2 separate regions of the Homo sapiens genome follow, and region 2 is linked to region 1. The links come from fine-mapping of genetic effects on gene expression. A gene starts in region 1. The other region holds a variant in brackets. All regions are shown on one strand. Distances are from middle to middle.

Evidence for each region. PIP is the estimated chance that this variant, and not a neighbour inherited with it, causes the effect. A credible set is the group of variants that fine-mapping cannot tell apart.
Region 2: its variant is the best candidate, but not a certain one, in a credible set for the expression of FAM81B in cerebellar hemisphere (GTEx, PIP 0.70).

What each region holds. Positions count from the first base shown.
Region 1 is chr5:95,388,446-95,393,830 of GRCh38, reverse strand. It overlaps FAM81B (family with sequence similarity 81 member B), which reads right to left and starts at 2,465. Exons shown (of 10, transcript NM_152548.3): 1 at 2,318-2,465; 2 at 934-1,037. The coding sequence starts at 2,441. It overlaps LOC105379089 (a long non-coding RNA gene), which reads left to right and starts at 2,659. Exons shown (of 3, transcript XR_948586.1): 1 at 2,659-2,761. RefSeq lists an enhancer at 448-1,305.
Region 2 is chr5:95,509,726-95,515,110 of GRCh38, reverse strand. SKIC3 (SKI3 subunit of superkiller complex) reads left to right here. Exons shown (of 43, transcript NM_014639.4): 26 at 188-256; 27 at 1,466-1,540; 28 at 2,493-2,634. Among named protein-coding and RNA genes, the nearest start is that of SKIC3, 43 kb to the left of the region's middle. The variant T/G (reference allele first, on the strand shown) is at 2,870.

The sequences.
Region 1 (5,385 bases):
ATAGCTTTTTGGTTTTATGGGCTATGAAATACGTTCTTGTATATGACATAATTTTATTTGACATGAATGCCCTATAAAGTGGATATCATTACCTTCCCATTAGTGTAAGGATGACATTAGTTACCTTAAGAAGCTGAAACCCTTATTATGGAAAGAAATTAAGATGACTATTTTTTATAGGTGAGGAGCTTCAGGATCAGAGAAGTACGGGACTTGCCCAAGATCATGTAGATGATGATGATAATCATACTGTAGCCCTTCCTACTTGCTAAGCACTTACTTAAGTGACTCATTCAAACCCACAATAACTTTGTATGATAAGCCTAATTCACCCATTTTACAGAAGAAGAAACAGAGGTTAAGTAATCATTCCAAAGTCCCACAGCTAGTATGTGGTACAGCCTATTATATAATACATACCAAAAATCAATGTTTGATATTGTGCTAGTGCTTTATGTAACAAGTGACTGCATCTGCCTCTTGTTATGTAAATTACAAGGTGTTAAGAGAAGTGCAAAAAAAGTCTAAAAACACTGCTTTAAAAAATGTTCTTTTTAACGGAGAAGATACGACAAGTTCTAATAAAGGAAACATTCTATTTAGCTATACCGGTTTTCATGTTAGAGATAAAGATAAAGTCTGCACCTTGAGTTTATCATGGTTCCTTTTGAATCATCATAAAACATACATAATGATCAACTTAAAAGAATTTTAGCCCCATATATTAAAAATCAGTCTAATTAATGAAATTGTAAATTGAGGTCATTTTTCTTTTCAGCTTGTGTTTTCAGCAGCCATTTTGCCAAGACAGAACAAACAGGAAATGTGGGAGAACTATTCTTCCAGAACTTCTTAAACTCTCTAAGCACTCTAAACTTTAAAGAAGCTGAGCAAAGTATTCTACTTTTAATGTGAATATTGAAAAGTACTTGCTTTCTTTTCTTGGTTATTGTCTGAGCCAGGAAGGGGGCCATCAGGTTCAACTGGCTGTTCCTCTGCAGTCGCAGTTGGAGAGGCACTTTTGTTTACATTTGTATCTAGGTAACCAGAATGCTGAATCAGGTCAGGAACTATGACAAGTGAATTTTTGCAGTGCTGCTAATTTTTTTTTAATTGAGGGCAGTTTCTGTACATATAGCTTGGCTTAAAGGGAGGCTTTCAATTTGCTTTACATTTCCCCTCTCCTCACTTATCCCAATTCTCCCCCATCCCCCCATAACATCTATAGTTAGCTAGAAGAGCATTTCTTTACAGATACTTCTATAAGACCTTTAGAAACTTTTTTAGGATCAGACAGCTCTAAAATAATCAGGAATGTATTTTTTTTAAATTATACTTTAAGTCCTGGGATACACGTGCAGAACATGCAGGTTTGTTACGTAGGTATACACGTGCCATGGTGGTTTGCTGCACCCATCAGCCCATCATCTACATTAGGTATTTCTCCTAATACTATTCCTCCTCTAGCCCCCAACCCCCAACAGGCCCCAGTGTGTGATGTTCCCCTCCCTGTGTCCATGTGTTCTCATTGTTCAACTCCCACTTGTGAGTGAGAACATGTGGTGTTTGGTTTTCCGTTCCTGTGTTAGTTTGCTGAGAATGATGGTTTCCAGCTTCATCCATGTCCCTGCAAAGGGACATGAACTCATCCTTTTTTATGGCTGCATAGTATTCCATGGTGTATATGTGCGGCATTTTCTTTATCCAGTCTATCATTGATGGGCATTTGGGTTGGTTCCAAGTCTTTGCTATTGTGAACAGTGCTGCAATAAACATACGTGTGCATGTGTCTTTATAGTAGAATGATTTATAGTCCTTTGGGTATATACCCATTAATGGGATTGCTGGATCAAATGGTATTTCTAGTTCTAGATCCTTGAGGAATCACCTCACTGTCTTCCACATGGTTGAACTAATTTACACTCCCACCAACAGTATAAAAGCGTTCCTATTTCTCCACATCCTCCCCAGCATCTGTTGTTTCCTGACTTTTTAATGGTTACTATTCTAACTGGCATGAGATGGTATCTCATTGTAGTTTTGATTTGCATTTCTGTAATGACAAGTGATGATGAGCTTTTTCTCGTATGTTTTGGCTGCATAAATGTCTTCTTTTGAGAAGTGTCTGTTCACATCCTTTGCCCACTTTTTGATGGGGTTTTTTTTTCTTGTACATTTGTTTAAGTTATTACTCTGTTGTGCCCAAGCCTTCTGAGGGTCTTCATTGGGATTCATTATTTTGTTTATATGTAATAAGAAACAGAAGAAAGATAGTGAAGTAGGAGAAATTTAGAGACCTCGAATAGTCCATAAGTACCTGAACTCATGATGCTTGCTTTTCCAGCTTTATTTTTTGTAGATTTGATATTTTTGAAAAACAATCTCTGTGATTTTTTTCTTTTTTCTGAGGAAGCCAATGTACCAAGGAATTGTAATTGCATCCTAACTAAGGTCTTCCTGTTTCTGGGGCCTCTTCCCAAGGGTGACTTAGTAGCATTGTGACTGCAGGAAGGATCTATGATGTCAGTGTGGCTGGCCCTCACAACTGAAGTCAGGAAATCCCTGGGATTTAGAAGCTTTGAATGTTTTCTGTAGTGCTCATCATCATACAAATCACTAAGCCTTTCACTTCTTTGTCTCATGGGGTGGGAAGTGGCCATTGTTATACTGATATTTCACACTCTTCTCCTGATTTCATCTTCACAGTTTGAAAAGTGACGAGTTATCATCAAGCTAGACAAAGAGGAAATGAAATGCTGCGGTATGCCCAAATCTTTCTCCAAGTATGTTAGGGAGGAAGCTAACTCTTCTAGGTTAGAAGGGGACTTCACAGATAGTGCAGCACTGATGAAAAGTGACATGGGTCAGAGTTTTACAGAAATGAAAATATTGAACTTTGCCTTTGTAGGGGAAATTTTGTTCAGTTATTTAGCCAAAAGGGGGTGGATTGTTTTAGCTGTAAAATGTTTGTCTGAGTTTTAAAATTAGAATTTGCATGTTTGTTAGTACTACTTGGCCTCCATATACAGAAATGATGCTTTGGCTAAGTTGTTGTCCAAATTATGGTATCAGATTTGCCTTGTTTAAAGGCACACAATGTTCAGGATGCTGAGTGACAAACTTTGATCCCACAGATAAAGGACACCTATGATTTGGGCTTCCATGCATATCCCCTAGTCCTAAGCTAAGCCCTTAAAACTCAAAGATGCAGTAGTTCATGGTTTGCAAGCAGTCCAAAAGGCTCATTATGCTACCCTAATCACCATTGTATCTAGTGCCAAGGGAGACTGACACACAGCAGTGACTAAGAGCAGGTGGCTACAGATTCTGAGAGAGTGGATTGGAACCCTGACTCCTCAACCTACCAGCTGTTTAGTTTGGACAAAATTACATCACCTCTTTAAGCCTCAACTTTCTCCTCTGTGAAATGAGCTAATAATATCGATCCCATAAGATGGTTGAGAGGATTAAATGTAATAATATACTTACAGCGCTCAGCTGAGGGCGGTGCCAGGAATCCACTAAAAGATAACTATTATTAGCGATTATTTCACAAGGTGCCAATTATCCAAGAAACAGTCACAAGCAGAGTCTGTGTGAGAAAGAAAAACTAGATTTAACCTTGCTTAACAACTTTTTAAGATTCTTTCTCTTCTTAAATTCAGCTTTTAATCCATGGTATTTGGTTAGAAAAATGGGCCCTACTAAAATGGACAATTTTGGTAGGTTTGTTCTCTAAACATAAATGGCTATTCAATTTTAACATAACAATGCACATAATATATATGTATATTATTAATGTCTGCTCTGGTTTGAATCTCTCCACCAAAACTCATGTTGAAATGTAATTGCCATTCTTTTTTTTTTTTTTTTGAGTTGTAGTCTTGCACTGTCACCCAGGCTGGAGTGCAATAGTGCGATCTTGGCTCACTGTAAGCTTGGCCTCCCAGATTCATGCCATTCTCCTGCCTCAGCCTCCCAAATAGCTGGGACTACAGGTGCCCACCACCACACTCGGCTAATTTTTTGTATTTTTAGTAGAGACAGGGTTTCATCGTGTTAGCCAGGATGGTCTCGATTTCCTGACCTCGTGATCTGCCCACCTCGGCCTCCCAAAGTGCTGGGATTACAGGCGTGAGCCACCGTGCCTGGCCTATTGCCATTCTAATAGTATTAGGAAGTGGAGGCTTTAAGAAGTGATTAGGTCATGAGGGCTCTCTCCTAATGAATGAATTAAAGCCCTTATTGTGGGAATGAGTTAGTTATCATAGGAGTGGGCTCCTGATAGAAAGGATGAGTTTGGCTTAGTTTATCTCTTTCTGTCTTGCATTCTTATTTCCCTTCTTGCTATGTTATGATGTAATATAAAGATGTATCCTCTCAATCTTGGACTTCCCAGCCTCTGGAACCATGAGCCAAATAAATGCCCAGACTATGGTATTCTTTTTTTAGACAGAGTCTTGCTCTGTTGCCCAGCCTGGAGTGCAGTGGTGCGATCTTGGCTCACTGCAACCTCTGCCTCCAAAGTTCAAGCAATTCTCATGCCTTAGCCTCCTGAGTAGCTGGGACTACAGGTGTGCACTGCCATATCTGACTAATTTTTGTATTTTTAGTGGAGACGGAGTTTCACCATGTTGGCCAGGCTGGTCTCAAACTCCTGACCTCAAGTGATCCACCCATCTCAGCCTCCCAAAGTGCTGGGATTACTGGTGTGAGCCACCATTCCAGGCCCCAGACTATGGTATTCTGTTATAGCAGAAGAAGATGGACTCAAATAGCTTCCCACTTGTCTAAAATGCATATGTAAAATCCTTCTCAGAAGTCAATAATCTTCATATATCTTTTCTAATCTAGGGCTAATAAAAGCACAGAAATTAAAAATGTTCAATTTCAATCTTTAAAGTGGCCTTATACTATAGTATATTTAATATAGATCTAAAGACATAATCCTGACATGGTGGTCAGTGATGGGGGATAGTCAGTGTTGAAGGTCATCAGACAGAAACGCTATGTGTTGTGCACTACACAACCCTCTGGGGCACTCATGGTAACACTGTAGATTTTCATATTTGTTACAGTAATTTTTCAGGCATATATCAAGAAAATATCTCATTTTACCAAAGAAAGTCAGGATAATTTTCTGACATGGAAGTAAAGGGTTTTGAGAAAGCGGCACCTATTTTTAACTCACACAAGGAGTGTACAGTGAGGCACTGTCAATGACCAACTGCATATATGATGGTGGTCCCATAAGATTTTAGTGGAGTGGAAAAATTCCTATTATCTAGTGATGTTGTAGCCATCATAACATTGCAGTGCAATGCATTACTCATGTGTTTGTGGTGATACTGGTGTAAACAAACTTGCTGAACTGCCAGTTGTATA
Region 2 (5,385 bases), 120 kb before region 1:
GGAGTGTTCCAGAACTGTGTAGTTAAAACACTGCTTTAAGCATTGCTAATTATGCTTAAACAGTGAAATTTTATGTTCATACATATTTATGATGAGAGGTTTGACTTATTTTATGCTTTTTAAACATAAGCGGTTTAATAAGTTTATAAAATGACTTGCTGTAATATTTTTTGCCTTTTTTTCCTAGCAAGCTCATGAGGCTTTCAAAATGGCTCAATCCCTTGATCCATCTTATTTAATGTGCTGGATTGGACAAGTAAGAAATATAACATATAGTTACTAATAAGCTTGTTGATATCAATAACTGACTAATATGCATAACAGTGATAATAATGGTAACGGATAGCATTTGAGGGCTTACTTTGTGCCAGTCACTGTGCTTAGCTCTTTGTATACACTATTTCAGTTAATCTATCAATCATCAATTCTTTGAGATATGGTTGATGTTATACTCTCTTTATAGTTGTGGAAATAGAAACTCAGAGCTCCTAAGTGTCATTCCTAAGGCCACGTAGCTTGTAAGGATTTAACTCTGACTTGGGGGGCCTTTGAACACTTACCAGTCTGACATTACTGTGCCTAAAAAATAAACCCAGAACTCTATTGTTTAACTCACATGTACAAAGAAAATGCACATTTACAAAGATCATTTTGAATATTATGTTTCTGTAAAATCTTCATATTTGGTTTGTCACTTGTTTATGAGTGTTCTTTCCTCCCCCAAATTCAGATTTTTGTACTGCCAAATAGGAATCAGGATACTTTGTTACTAGTCTGAGTCTGTTACCTACTGATTTTTTTTTCTTTTTTTACCTTAGCATATCACTTTTCTGGATTTTAATTTTCTCACCTGAAAAAGAAGGGGATTAGACTGAGTGGCCTCGAAGTTCTTGCCTGGTTGAGAAATTATAATGAATTAGTAAGCAGTCAGTTGCTTATCAGAAAATTATTAATCAGGGTTTAGAGATCTTTTGTTGTATTTTAGACTCTTGGGCCTAATTCTAGTTAATTGGTGAAGCAAGCAGAGCTAGAAAGGCAAACTCCTGTTCCCATTCACTGTGGTAGCATTTGGGAGCAGTGGCGTTACTGTGCTAGCCTCTGTGTCAGCCATTGAACCCAGGGAGTCCAAGAATTTGCATTCTAACTGCTCCCAAGTGATGATTATGAGGCTGGTCCAAGGGACCTCACTTCGCGTAGTACTGCTCTAGCTCAGTAGATCTTAGATGATTATCAGAATCACTTTTTAATTTTTATTTTAAAAGTATTTTTGGTTTTAAAAATAATTTATTTTAGCAGGTAACTGGAAGATTTAGTTAAAATAATAACAATAGAAGTGAAAAACTTAGGTTAACTTTGCTTTTAAGCTCAGCTAGTAAACCTTTGGTTCTTCTAGACAGTTTCATTTTGTATTATTATTGTTACTGTCTTTTAAACACATTAAGAGTCTGTTTTTTTCCTTTTATAGGCTCTTATTGCTGAGGCAGTTGGAAGTTATGACACCATGGATCTCTTCAGGCACACTACAGAACTAAATATGCATGTAAGAATCTGAACATTCTTCTTGAGGATTCATTAATGAGAAAAGTGTTATCCTTGTTAAGGGAATGAATAGATATTGGGCTAGGCATAGTGGCTTATGCCTGTAATCCCAGTGATTTGGGATGCCAAGGCAGGAGGATTGCTTGAGGCCAGCCTGGACAATATAGCAAGACCCTGTCTCTTAAAAAAAAAAATTAAAAATTAGCCAGGTATGATGGTGTATACCTGTAGTCCTAGCTACTCAGGAGGCTGAGGCAGGAGGATTGAGTCCTGGAGTTTCAGGATACAGTGAGCTATGATCATGCCATTGCACTCCAGCCTGGGCAACAGAGCAAGATTCTGTCTCTAAGAAAAGGAAAAAGAAAATGAATAGATAGTGGTATTAGATGTTAATGACATCAGTTGTTTTTATTCTTTATTCTTTCTTAGAAACAGATTAGTTTTCTCGAATTAAAGAACTACCATTTTTCTTTTTTCTACAACTTTCAAGAGCTGGTGAAGAAATGATGTTTAGATTTAATAGATATAGTAGCAGTCATATATTAATAGAATAGAAACTGAGACTCTAGGAAAAAGATAGACATGAGATAAGGAGTAGGCATGGTAGACATTTCTAGATTATTTATGAAAATGTTGTAGAATTCATTTTTTTTTTTGGTCTGACCTTTGGCAATGGTGCTGAGGAAGGGAAAGCCAGCCCATCAGGCAAGGCTCTGTTTTCTGCATTTTATCCCGTTTGATTCTTCTCGTTAGGATTGGAGCAAATAATTTCAATATGTTCTTCGCTGTGTTTTATCATAGTGACCCTTCATTTAAAGGTACTTTTAACAATTGACTTAAAGAACACTGAGATGTGATATTTATTGTATTGAAGTGCATTGTTTTACTTCTTATTATAATTTTTATTGACACATTTATTATCCTATGTCTGCTTAACGTTGGCTTTTTTAAAGACTGAAGGAGCATTAGGTTATGCGTATTGGGTCTGCACAACATTGCAAGATAAAAGCAACAGAGAAACAGAGCTGTACCAGTACAACATCCTCCAGATGAATGCTATTCCAGCAGCACAAGTTATTTTGAATAAATATGTAGGTAAGGTACCTGTTATATAATAGCAAGATATTTGAGCAACTATTGAAATAATTTAAATAATTTTTAAAATTAATTCATGTCAAATTAAATATTGGTATTCTTTAAGACATGAATTTGCCTTCTTTTTGCAACAGCGAAGCAGTCTTTACTTTGTAAACTTTAATAAAGGCTTTTGAAGAAAGATAAAAATTGTTACCTAATGATGCAAGAAAAAAGTAATTTCCTTGTTATAGTG[T/G]AGAGTGTATTAGGCTTTAATACACTCTCCACTATACACTATACACTAGAACAGTTGCTGCTGTTCTCGCTTTGCCTTTAACTTTCTCTGCAGTCTTAGGCCAAGTGTTTTACCACCCTTAACTTCTGTTTACTCCCTGGATAGTGGATATAACAATACCTGGATTGTAGAGTTGTGAGAACTAGATGAGATAATATAAATGAAGTGCCAAACCCAGTGCCTTTAGCTTCCCCACTTAACACCTGATTTTTCTTGAAGATATTGGAAAGATACATTTAGGTTTAGGAAGTTGACAGAGTGGTGAAATTTTATTAACCATCTGTTGTAATAATTCCGTCTTTTTTAATAAAACTACCATTGGGTTTTAATCTCTGCTCCACCACTTAGTAGCCTTGACTGAAACCTTGGGCATGCTACCAAAATTCTCAACAGGAAAGTGTTTATTGCTTAGTGTTTAAACAAGATGATTTGTACAAAATGTTATGCAGGGTGCCTGGCATATCCTAGATGCTCAAGAAATGTTAGTTTCATTAACTTTTGACAAAATGCTAATAAAGAAGCAAGGAGTTTAAGCAAGAGTACTGAAAACAGTAAATATTGGCAGTCAAATAATATAAAGAATCAGATAAATTGTGAAAAACAGGAGAGAAAATGCCTCACTGTAGATATTGTGGGGATTGTGGCACTCTGCATGCATTTAGCCTGAGGCACTAGACTAGGCAATTAATTTACAAACATCAGCACTTGGGGGGGTTTGCCTTAGGGTGGGTGTGGCATGTGAAGGCATGGATCTCCTCATGCTTATTTTGTATTTATTTATTTATTTTTTGAGACGGAGTCTCGCTCTGTCACCCAGGCTAGAGTGCAGTGGCGCAATCTCGGCTCACTGCAACTTCACCTCCCAGGTTTAAGCCATTCTCTTGCCTTAGCCTTCCGATTAGCAGGTAGGCGTTACAGGTGTGTGCCACCACGCCCGGCTAATTTTTTGTATTTTTAGTAGAGGTGGGGTTTCACGGTATTAGCCAGGATGGTCTCAATCTCCTGACCTGGTGATCCACCCGCCTCGGACTCCCAAAGTGTTGGGATTACAGGCGTGAGCCACTGTGCCTGGCCCTCATGCTTATTATGACTCAATTTTGTTGACTCTTTCTTTTGTGACTTTAAGGATTTTTCAAGAATAACTTTGACTATTTGATTTTAACCTTAGTTGTTGATCTTAGAACCTAGCAATCACAAAAGATATGGTTACAGTGTACTTTGTTAAATAATCTAAAGGATTTGAAGGCTTACTTTCCACTACTACTTTTAAGTACATTAGATCAGATACATTTCTTTTTCTACATTTTACCTTCATAGATAGGTAATCACCCAATGGGTTCACTTTGCCCGCTGCCTAGACAGAGCCAATATATCAAGACAGGGGAATTGCAATAGAAAAAGAGAAATTCATGCAGAGCCGGCTGTGTGGAGGACTAGAGTTTTATTATTACCGAAATCAGTCTCCCCGAACAAGCATTTGGGGATCAGCATTTTTAAGAATAATTTGGTGGATGGTGGTGGGCAGGCAGTGAGTAGGGAGTGCTGATTAGTTGGGTTGGAGATGAAATCATAGGGAGTTGAAGCTGTCTTCTTGCGCAGTCAGTTCCTGGGTGGGGGCCACAAGATCAGATGAGCCAGTTTATCAATCTGGGTGATGCCAGCTGATCCATCAAGTGCAGGCTCTGAATAGTGATGTTATCCCCAGGAACAATTTGGGGAGGGTCAGAATCTTGTAGCCTCCAGCTGTATGACTCCTAAACCATAATTAATCTTTTGACTAATTCAGTAGTCCTGCAAAGGCAGGTCTAGTCGCTAGGCAAGAAGGGGGTTTGTTTTGGGAAAGGGCTGTTGTCATCTTTGTTTCAAACTATAAACTATAAACCAAGTTCCTCCCAAAGTTAGTTTAGCCTGTGCCCAGGAATGAACGAGGACAGCATGGAGGTTAGAAGCAAGATGGAGTTAGGTTGGATTTCTGTCACTGTCTCAGTTATAATTTTGAAATGGTGGTTTCAGATACATTATGTTTTTTGACATTAAAATTTCAAAATACTGCACCGAAAGTACCAAACTTACCTTCTGTTTCTAGTGTACAATACTGACTTTGTTATTTTTTTTAAATACGTACATGTTGGAACAGAACCGCCAAGAGAAATTATTGCTAAATTTAATCACAGGAAGGCTTAAGTAATTAGCCAAAGAACTGAATATCTTTATAAATCTCATGACTGGTTTTAACAAGAACTATAATTTCAAGTTATTATACCTTTGGGCATAAAATGTTTAAATTCTAAAATACAACTAAAAATCAAATATAACTATTAAACATTATTCAGTAATTAGAGTTAATAAAGTTTTTACTGACATTATATTCAAGATAAAATCAGGCCACTATTCTTAACAGTGTGAGTGATCTCAAGAGGTAATCTGATATTTAAGATACTGAAAAAATAAAACGAATATTTTGTTAATACCATCAG